Linked DNA regions of Homo sapiens. The protein of the gene in region 2 purifies or fractionates together with the protein of the main gene of each other region. This does not show direct contact. Each region holds a gene or a part of one and is shown on either strand. Other genes may lie near its edges.

Region 1 (3,650 bases), on a different chromosome or scaffold from region 2:
AGTAGAATAGCTGCAAGAGAGGCTACATGGCCTGCCCTGCAAAGCTTGAGATATTTACTATCTGGCCTTTTACAGAACAAGTCTGCCAGTCCCTGGTATAGATCATCGTCTTATTTGTTGCTTAAAACCCTTCAGTCACTTCCCACAGTTTCTAGGAAAAAGTCTAAAACTTTTCACAGAGCAGACAAAACTGTTCTTGAAGGACAGTTGGCAAACACATGAGTCCCGACCTCTCTCATTACTCACACCTCACCCTTCTCATTCACTCAGTGAGCCACACTGCCTTTCCTTTAAAGACAATTCTCCCACCACCCCCATCCCCACTTGATGATCAAGTTAGCCCTGCCTTTGATTATTTCTCTCAAACACCTATCCCAACTGTATTTAAGTAACAATCGTGTAGTAGCTGATTAAAGACTGCCTGCTCTGGAGCCACTGCCTGAGTTCAAAATCCTGGCTTTGTCACTTAACAACAGTTTGACATTGGGCAAGTCACATAAACTTTTTGTACTTCAGTTTCCTTATCTGCAAAATAGGTGTAACAACTGCACCTACCCGAGTTTAAAGGCTATTAATACATGTGCATTAAGATTGTACCCCATAACAGTAAATGCTTCAAAAGCACCAACAATTATTATTCTCAGTAGCAGGAACAAGTTCCTGTGGCTCTCAACTAGACTGAAGCTCCTTGAGGGCAAGGATTATAACTGTCCTAGCTTTTGTGACTGGTACAAAGTAGAGCATTTATTCAAATGCTTAATGAACACCTAATTTGAATAACACATAACACTCACAAACTGTCCTCTTCAACCAACAGTTGCAGTGATTCAATCTTTGGGGGCCTGGCCCAAATGTTCTCTTTCAAACAAATGCCAAATGTGATTGAGATTTTAAAGCCAGCAAAATACAGGTGCAGTGGCTCAGCCTGTGATCCCAGAACTCTGGGAGGCTGAGGTGGCTGGATCGCTTGAGTCCAGGACTTCGAGACCAGTCGAGGCAACAAGTAAGACCTCATGTCTACAAAAAAATAAAAAAATAGCCAGGGCATGGTGGCACACACCCATAGTCCCAGCTGCTCGGGAGGCTGAGGCGGGAGGATCCTTGAGGCTGGAAGGTTGAAGCTGCAGTGTGCCGAGATCGCGACATTGCACTGCAGCCTGGATGACACAGTGAGACTCCGTCTCAAAAAATAAAAAATAAAAAAAAAAATAAAGCTAGCAAAATAGGCAGACACATTTATATCTAAGACACAGAAGTCTTAGAAAAGCATTTCATCTCATAAAACTGTATTAACTGTAAAAGCCCATATTTGCATCCCCATTCACAAATTATGTACTATGCCATCAGGTAGTTATTAACATTCAACTCTCAATCCTGCAAAAGGTGGGATGGTGTATCTTGCTAAAACACCAACTTCTCTTTCAAATGTCCATGAGGAGTCCTTCTGCAAACATGTAAGCACAACAAAAAGAGAAATGCGGGAGAGAAAGACTCAATTCTACTACAGATAAGACGCAAACCAAGCAAGCATGACACTTCGGAGTGAATTCTATCACTATCTTTAAACTGCCCTGCTTTCTTAACTTGCCCATAAGAGCACAACGTAAAGGCTTTTCTAGCACTTCCTGTTCTAAACTAATACCAGTTTAGATTTAAAGCTCCAATCCTACAGGAACTCCTTTTTTTTTTTTAATAACCAGAAGCCCAACATATATTGAAGAAAATTAAAATACTAAAATAGTATTCCAGAACCTTTAAAATGTTAGATTTCTTTTTTTTTTTTTGAGATGGAGTCTTGCTCTGTCGCCCAGTGGCGCGATCTCGACTCACTGCAACCTCCCCCTTCGGGTTCAAGTGATTCTCCTGCAGGCCTCAGCCTCCCTAGTAGCTGGGATTACAGGCGCCCACCACCACGCCCAGCTAATTTTTGTATTTTTAGTAGAGACAGGGTTTCGCCAGGTTGGCCAGGCTGGTCTCGAACTCCTGACCTCAGGTGATCCACTCGCCTTGGCCTCCCAAAGTGCTGGAATTATAGGCGAGAGCCACTGCGCACAGCTGATTATATTTAAAAATCAATCCAGCAATTCATGTTAAAAGGACTCAGCAGTTTGCATTCTCACAGTTAGCAAGAATGACGTGACGAAGATAGACCGTGAGTACTGTATCAATGTTAAGATTTCATTTGGTACTTCAGAATAAATTAGAACTAAGAATGAAGGTTCCTTCAAGTATGATCCCTAAAGATTTCATAATACTCTCACTTGCACAATCATGTGCAAGTTCAGTTCTGATTTATTCAAGTAACTAAGAACAATCCAGCCATGGACACTATTACAGTTGTTTGCGAACTTGTTATTCTGAATCTTCACCCAAGAAAAGCATTGTGCATCTCTGACCTTCCACAATCACAGGTAGAGGTGGCAGTGTCTCATTCTGTGATAAAGTTGCTATTTTTACTTGTGTACTCCTCCCCACCTTCATCCTGATACTCGTATTTAAAAACTATATTATTAGTATATGGGTCTCTGGTATCCTGCTACTCTTTGCAATTTTCACTACTCTCTGGGAGCCTCGCCATCACCAGGTCCAAACACAACTCATCCAAAAATGCAACACAATCAGAGGCCAAACCAATAGGCACACAGATATCATAACTCTCCTGATGTTCTCTGGCCTCCCTCGTGCTTCCTTCCATTCTAACCACGCCAAGTTCTTTCCTGCCTTGCCATCTTTGTCTCTCACAACGCTACAGGGCCTCTCCTAGGAGGCTCTTCTAACACTGTGGGAACCATATCGCTGTGAACAGCATTTAGGATGCAGTCACTGTCAATTCGATTTTGCACAGCAGTGAACAAGATCCTAGCTTACAACAGTTTAATGGTTCTCAAAGGGTGGTCTGTGGACCTCTAAGGGGTTTACCAAAATCTTTTCAGGGGTCTCATGAGGTCAAAACGATATTCATAGCAATATTAAGTTATCATTTGCCTTTTCCACAAAGTTCCCATTTGTACTAAGGGTGCAAAAGCAATGGTAGGGAAAACTGCTAGCTCGGCACCCCTTGGCATGAATCAAAAACAGTAGTTACAAACTGAGTGGTAAGTCACTGTATTCTTTACTACCATGCATTCACAGTGGGAAAAGAGCTGTTTCTACTTAACAGTGTCCTTGAAAAAGCAGTAAAATTATATTAAATCTTGACCCTTTGGTACCTGTCTTTTTAATATTCTGCACGACAAAATGAGATGTACACATAAAGCACCTCTGTTACATACTGAAGTATGATGGTTGTTTCCAAAAAAAGCACTTGTGCAGTCATTTGAGAAGTGATCTGAACTGGCCACTTTTATCATGGAATGCCTTTTTTACTTGCAAGAATGATGACAAACTATCATTATTGCAAATGTGAATAGCTGGCAGACATTTTCTTGGAAATTAAAGAAACAAAACAGTCAATTCAAGTAAAAACTGGTAGCATGTTGCCAAGGAAATTATTTGAACTCAAGGAGGAAATTAGAATTTTGGAAAACTTGCACCACTCATAGCGAACAGTGTTCTAAAACTTAAGACTTTGCAGAGATTGGTGGTGATATTAACAAATGTGATTTTTAAAAATGCTTGTATAATAAAATGTGTCAACATGTGGAAGATCT
Region 2 (3,750 bases):
CAGAGAGGGAGCAAGAGGACTGTCCGGGGGTTACGTGGGGACGCGTTGAGAAACGCTGGACCCAGCTGGAGCGGCCAGGGCAGAGGGTAGGCCAGAGGAGGCCACCAGGGAGCAGCAGAGGCTGGCGAGAAGCGCTCAAAAGCCCTTTTTTTTTTTTTTTTTTTTTTTTTGGAGACGGGGTCTTGCTGTGCTGCCCAGGCTGGAGTGCTGTGCAGTTCTCGACCACAGCTCATTGCAGCCTCGAACTTCCACGCTCAAGCGATCCTCCCACTTCAGCCTCCTGAGTAGCTGGGATTACAGGCATGTGCCACCACGCCTCGCTAATATTTGTATTTTTCATACAGACAAGATCTCACTATGTTGCTCAGGGTAGTCTCGAATTCTGGGACTCAAATGATCCTCCCACTTCAGCCTCCCAAAGTGCTGGGATTACAGGCATAAGCCATCATGCCCGGCCTCTGACGCTGTTTCTTTCAACCCCCAGGATTTCAGATTCCACCAGCTTATGGAGAAGGGAACCAAGTTTGAGATGCGTGATTGCCCAGAAAGTTGGAGGCTGAGCTGAGACTTGAACCCAGAGACCAGAACCTCCAGAGGTCAAAGTCCTCCTGGGTCCCCCAGAGAAGGGCCCTGAGATGACAGCTCGTTGGTCCTCATGGAAGCGTGACCCCCCCAGTAGACTTTCTCCCACACCCAACCTTGGTTTCCTCATCTATATGATAGGGACAAGCCAGACTCTACCTCCCTGGTGGTCATGGTCTCCGCTTATTCGGGTTCATAACCTTAAAGGCCCCTCGCACCACCTCAGTGAGCCATTTATGCCTGGCACAGGGCCAACTCTCAGTGCATATCTGCAAAGGAACCAATGAATGAATGAATGAAGTGACAAATGAATAAAGGAATAAATGAATGAGGCACTTATCATGTACCAGGCTTTCGTTACCACGTCCCATTTATTCCTCTGAGGCAGGGTCTATTTTATCCTTGTTACAGATGGGGAAACTAAGGCCCAGGGAGGAGCAAAGTCTTCCCCAAGTATGTACCCACTCAGAACTTGAGCTCTGAATGTCTCCCACCCAGCTTAGCCCAAGAGCGGGGTTCAGTGATGCCCACCCCCTAAGGCTCTAGAGAAAGGGGGTAGGCCCACATGCCAGTTTGGGGGTGGTAAAGCCAGGTAAGTTTTCTTTATGGGTCCCCTGAAACCCTGAAAGTGAACCCCAGTCCTGCATGAAAGTGAGCTCCCCATAGCTCAAGGTATTCAAGCACAATACGGCTTTGAGTGCTGAAGCAGGCTGTGCAGGCTTGGATAGTGACATGCCCTCTCTGAGCCTCAATTTCCCCACCTGTCAACAGCAGACAGTGACAGCTGTGATCAGGGGATCACAGTGCATGGGGATGGGTGGGTGCATGGGGATGGAGGGGCATTTGGGAGCCCTCCCCGATACCACCCCCTGCAGCCACCCAGATAGCCTGTCCTGGCCTGTCTGTCCCAGTCCAGGGCTGAAAGGGTGCGGGTCCTGCCCGCCCCTAGGTCTGGAGGCGGAGTCGCGGTGACCCGGGAGCCCAATAAATCTGCAACCCACAATCACGAGCTGCTCCCGTAAGCCCCAAGGCGACCTCCAGCTGTCAGCGCTGAGCACAGCGCCCAGGGAGAGGGACAGACAGCCGGCTGCATGGGACAGCGGAACCCAGAGTGAGAGGGGAGGTGGCAGGACAGACAGACAGCAGGGGCGGACGCAGAGACAGACAGCGGGGACAGGGAGGCCGACACGGACATCGACAGCCCATAGATTCCTAACCCAGGGAGCCCCGGCCCCTCTCGCCGCTTCCCACCCCAGACGGAGCGGGGACAGGCTGCCGAGCATCCTCCCACCCGCCCTCCCCGTCCTGCCTCCTCGGCCCCTGCCAGCTTCCCCCGCTTGAGCACGCAGGGCGTCCGAGGACGCGCTGGGCCTCCGCACCCGCCCTCATGGAGGCCGTGGAGACCGGGGAACGGCCCACCTTCGGAGCCTGGGACTACGGGGTCTTTGCCCTCATGCTCCTGGTGTCCACTGGCATCGGGCTGTGGGTCGGGCTGGCTCGGGGCGGGCAGCGCAGCGCTGAGGACTTCTTCACCGGGGGCCGGCGCCTGGCGGCCCTGCCCGTGGGCCTGTCGCTGTCTGCCAGCTTCATGTCGGCCGTGCAGGTGCTGGGCGTGCCGTCGGAGGCCTATCGCTATGGCCTCAAGTTCCTCTGGATGTGCCTGGGCCAGCTTCTGAACTCGGTCCTCACCGCCCTGCTCTTCATGCCCGTCTTCTACCGCCTGGGCCTCACCAGCACCTACGAGGTACCGGACAGAGGCCCGGGGGTAGGACCTGCCCCACTGGCAGTGCTGGGACCCCGTGTGGGGGAGGCGCTGGGGCTTTGGGCCGCTGTACAGGAGGACGCGGATGGCACCTCGGTGCTTTAACGGAAGGGGCCCCTAGGCAGACACGTGGGGAGGGTTCTAGGAAGAGGCCCCAGGCGCCCGGCGAGGGGCAGGAAGGAGGAAGAGAGAGCCTGGCGTCCTGCTCCTTCGGTGGAAGCGCGCGCGGGGCGGGGCCCGGCTCGACCAGGTGTGTCCTCACGGGTGGACACACACCTGCCCCCCACCTGCCCGGGCGTGCAGACCCACGTGTGCGCGCTAGAGGGGACTGCTGACGGCTCCGGGGTTCGAAACCTGGCTTCACTGCTTTCTTGTATCTTGGGCAAGGGGCGTGCCTCTCTGTTTGGGTTTCCCAGCTGTCCAATGGGCGAATTACAGGACCTCCCTCCAGGGGAGAGGGTAAAGCGATTAAAATCGTGACCGGGGCCCGGTGCGGTGGCTCACGCCTGTAATCCCAGCACTTTGGGAGGCCAAAGCATGCAGATCACCTGAGGTCAGGAGTTCAAGACCAGCCTGGCCAACATGGCGAAACCCCGTCTCTACTAAAAATACAAAAATTAGCCGGATGTGGTGGTGGGCACCTGTAATCCCAGCTACTTGGGAGGCTAAGACAGGAGAATTGCTTGAACCCGGGAGGTTGCAGTGAGCCGATATCGCGTCACTGCACTCCAGCCTGGGCGACAGAGCGAGACTCTTGTCTCAAAGGAAAAAAAAATATTGTGGCAGGGCGCAGTGGCTCACGCCTGTAATCCCAGCACTTTGGGAGGCCGAGGTGGGTGGATCACGAGGTCAGGAGTTCAAGACCAGCCTGGCTAACATGGTGAAACCCCGTCTTTACTAAAAATACAAAAATTAGCCGGGCATGGTCGCGCGCGCCTGTAATCCCAGCTACTCAGGAGGCTGAGGCAGAAGAATTGCTTGAACCTGGGAGGCGGAGGTTGCAGTGAGCCGAGATCGTGCCAGTGCACCCTAGCCTGGGCGACAGAGCGAGACTCCGTCCCCCCTCCCCCCCAAAAAAATCGTGACAGGTATATCCTAGGCGGCCAACACCATTGGCCCGGGGCACTGTCTACACTGTGCGCTTGCGGGCCACGTCGGTGTCTGCTGAGCGGTGGCTGCTCCAGGAGCCCGCGCCCGTCAGGCGCAAGTGGGAGGGCGCGTGCACACGCATGGACCAGTCCTCCAGGTCCACGGGGTACGCACAGGCACGGGATGGCACCTGTGCACGGGTGTGTGCGTGCGGCGGGGCCCCCACGTGCAAGAATCTGGCGGGCGCGGTTGGCTTCCGGAGGGAGGGGCCCACCTAGAGAGCAGACCAGGGACCCGAGAGGCCTCGGCTCCTGGGT
Region 3 (3,650 bases), on a different chromosome or scaffold from region 2:
GTCCAAAAATGTATAGAATCACCTACTATGCTTAGAATGCAGTAAATATTCAATTTTAAATTATTATTTTAAACTATTACGCAGCCTGGGCACCATACCATGGCAAGACCTCATCTCTACAAAAAAATTTTAAAAATTAGCTGGGCATGGTGGCGTGCCCCTGTAGACCCAGCTACTAGGGAGGCTGAGGTGGGAGGATTGCTGGAGCCCAGGAGTTTGAGGCTACAGTGAGCCATGTTTGCACCACTGCACTCCAGGCTGGGTGACAGATCGAGACCCTGTCTCAAAAAACAAATGTATATATATGTACACACACACACTTATAATTATGAAGGTATATTTCAAACTTGTAGATAATTTGAAAGATAAAGGAAAACATGAAAAATCTTTTTATCCATCTGAAAATACTCTTTTGTCTTTCCAGTCTTACTCCTTTCTGCAATATTTTTTTCTCCCTCAAAGTTGAGATCATTGGATCTAACTTTTTTCTTTTTTTGAGACGGAGTCTTGCTTTGTTGCCTAGGCTAGAGTGCAGTGGCGCAATCTCGGCTCACTACAGACTCCGCCTCCCGGGTTCAAGCGATTCTCCTGCCTCAGCCTCCCAAGTAGCTGGGATTACAGGCACCCGCCACTGCGCCCGGCTAATTTTTGTATTTTTTAGTAGAGACAGGGTTTCACCATCTTGGCCAGGCTGGTCTCAAACTCCTGACCTCATGATCCATCCACCTCAGCCTCCCAAAGTGCTGGGATTACAGGTGTGAGCCACTGCACCCGGCCTCAATTTTTCATCACTAATTATGATACTAGCTGTAGGTTTTTTATAGATGTTCTTTTTTTGTTTTTTGTTTTATTTATTTATTTATTTATTTATTTATTTATTTATTTATTTATTGAGACAGAGTCTTGGTCTGTTGCCCAGGCTGGAGTGCAGTGGCATGATCTCGACTCACTGCGCCTCCACCTCCCGGGTTCAAGCAATTCTCCTGCCTCAGCCTCCCGAGTAGCTGGGATTACAGGCGCCCGCCACCATGCCTGGCTAATTTTTGTATTTTTAGTAGAGATGGGGTTTCACCATGTTGGCCAGGCTGGTTTCAAACTCCTGGCCTCATGATCCACCCTCCTCGGCCTCCTAAAGTGCTGGGATTTCAGGTGTGAGCCACCGTGCCCGGCTGGATCTAACTTTTTAAATTTAAAATGTAAGTATTTCTTGCTGCCATAATTATGGGCAAAGGTTTGTTTTTTTGGGTTTTTTGTTTGTTTTTTTGAGACGGAGTCTCGCTTTGTTGCCCAGGCTGGAGTGCCGTGGCGCGGTATGGGCTCACTGTAACCTCCACCTCCCGGGTTCAAGCGATTCTCCTGCCTCAGCCTCCCAAGTAGCTGGGTTTACAGGCGCCAGCCACCACGCCTAGCTAATTTTTGTATTTTTAGTAGAGACTGGGTTTCACCACGTTGGCCAGGCTGGTCGCGAACTGCTGACCTCGTGATCCACCCACTTCAGCCTCCCAAAGTGCTGGGATTACAGGTGTGAGCCACGGGGCCCGGCCTTGTTTGTTTGAGACAGGATCTTGCTCTGTTGCTTACGCTGAATTGCAGTGGTGTGATCATGGCTCGCTGCAGCCTTGATCCCCTGGGCTCAAGGGATCCTCCTGCCTCAGCCTCCCACGTAGCTGGGAATATAGATGGGCACCACCCTGCCTAATTTTTGTTTGTTTTGAGACAGGGTCTCAATTCTGTTGCCCAGGCTGAAGCACAGTGGTGCGATCACAGCTCACTGCAGCCTTGACCTCCTGGGGTCAAGTGATCCTCCCATCTCAGCCTCACCCAGTAGCTGGGACTACAGGCATGTGCCATCACAACCGGCTAATTTTTTTTTTTTTTTGAGACGGAGTTTTGCTCCTGTTGCCCAGGTTGGAGTGTAATGGCGCGATCTCAGCTCACTGCGACCTCCGCCTCTCAGGTTCAAGCAATTCTCCTGCCTCAGCCTCCCGAGTAGCTGGGATTACAGGCATGTGCCACTACACCCAGCTAATTTTGTATTTTTAGTAGAGACGGGCTTTCTCCATGTTGGTCAGGCTGGTCTCTAATTCCTGACTTCAGGTGATCCACCTGCCTTGGCTTCCCAAAGTGCTGGGATTACAGGTGTGAGCCACTGTGCCTCACTCACACCTGGCTAATTTTTGTATTTTTTGTAGTGACAGGGTTTTGCCATGTTGTCCAGGCTGGTCACAAACTCCTGAGCTCAGGTCATCCACCTGCCTCAGCCTCCCAACATGCTGGGATTACAGGTGTGAGTAGAGACGGGCTTTCTCCATGTTGGTCAGGCTGGTCTCTGACTCCTGACTTCAGGTGATCCACCCGCCTTGGCTTCCCAAAGTGCTGGGATTACAGGTGTGAGCCACTGTGCCCCACTCACACCTGGCTAATTTTTGTATTTTTTGTAGTGACAGGGTTTTGCCATGTTGTCCAGGCTGGTCACAAACTCCTGAGCTCAGGTCATCCACCTGCCTCAGCCTCCCAACATGCTGGGATTACAGGTGTGAGCCACCATGCACAGCTTCCCAGCTAATTTACTTTTTCTTCTTTAAAGATGGATCTCGCTATGTTGACCAGGCTGGTTTCAAACTCCTGGGCTCAAGCGATCCGCCTGCCTCAGCCTCCCAAAGTGCTAGGATTACAGGTGTGAGTGACTGCCTGGCCAGCAAAGATTTCTGAGGTAGTTTTCCTGCTATAGTAACACTTTGGTCAAAGTGCAGGTCTAGTTAAGGAGAACAAGTATTCCAGTACATCTTTAAATACAGTTGCTTGTTTCTGGACACGGAGGGGAGGGAGACCATTGCTGGGCTATACAGATTAGTCTTATCTTGGCTAGTTGAAAATTGGTAATAGTTTTCATTTTGTGGAGAAATTTCATTGCCAAATATTGCAACATTAAGGAAATACATAAGAAATGACTGAAGTGGCTCAAAATTGTTGGACCAATATGTTTTTGAGTAAAGAACTATAAGTTTTAAGTGATGACTGTATATGTTTAATTCGTGCATTAAAGCTTATAAATACCTTTTTCAAAAACTCTTAATTTGCATTTATACAGCATTGTTATTTTTGATACAACTGCATAAGATACATTCTGTGTTGCTGTGAGCCATTAAACTGTTGTCTTGTAATTTATATTTAGAAAATAATTTGTGGATACTTAAAAGTCATTATGGGCGCATTATTTTTTCCCCTTGAATTCTGGGGTGACCTAGAAATGGTTGCATGATTTTGTAAACACTTCCCTTTTTAAAAAAGTAAAATGAGTATGTAAAATATTATATATTTAAAGCCCTCAAGCAGTCGTCTTCAAAAAGATACATCAGGAAATGTAAACAGCCCAACATTTTAATTAAAAAAAATCTGCTTGGACAATTTTTTTTCTCTTTTCATAAAAGTAATACATGATTTTTGGGTAAAAAAAAATTCCTATCAGTAGAGGAGCAAGGAAAATAATTATTCATACAGTATTCATACAAGCACATATAAAACCTATTAAAAGAAAACTTGGATTACCTACATGCTTTTGTATAATTTAAAATGATATAGTCATGATTTGTCTTGGATTTCTTCAATTCTTTTCTTTGTCAGTATTTTTGGATTTACTTTTTTTTTTT

What was found.
Region 1: the proteins of SLC5A5 (region 2) and RHEB purify together in Homo sapiens (affinity purification with mass spectrometry, with the first as the bait; one large-scale study listed by BioGRID). This does not show direct contact.
Region 3: the proteins of SLC5A5 (region 2) and ARF4 purify together in Homo sapiens (affinity purification with western blotting; one study listed by BioGRID). This does not show direct contact.

The regions. Positions count from the first base shown.
Region 1 is NC_000007.14:151,509,894-151,513,543, forward strand, and holds part of RHEB (GTP-binding protein Rheb), read right to left. Parts: intron 1-3,650. UniProt on the Homo sapiens protein: Small GTPase that acts as an allosteric activator of the canonical mTORC1 complex, an evolutionarily conserved central nutrient sensor that stimulates anabolic reactions and macromolecule biosynthesis to promote cellular biomass generation and growth.
Region 2 is NC_000019.10:17,870,351-17,874,100, forward strand, and holds the start of SLC5A5 (sodium/iodide cotransporter), read left to right. Parts: upstream 1-1,594; 5' UTR 1,595-1,969; coding exon 1,970-2,326; intron 2,327-3,407; exon of another isoform or gene 3,408-3,599; intron 3,600-3,750. UniProt on the Homo sapiens protein: Sodium:iodide symporter that mediates the transport of iodide into the thyroid gland. Can also mediate the transport of chlorate, thiocynate, nitrate and selenocynate.
Region 3 is NC_000003.12:57,587,332-57,590,981, reverse strand, and holds part of ARF4 (ADP-ribosylation factor 4), read left to right. Parts: intron 1-3,650.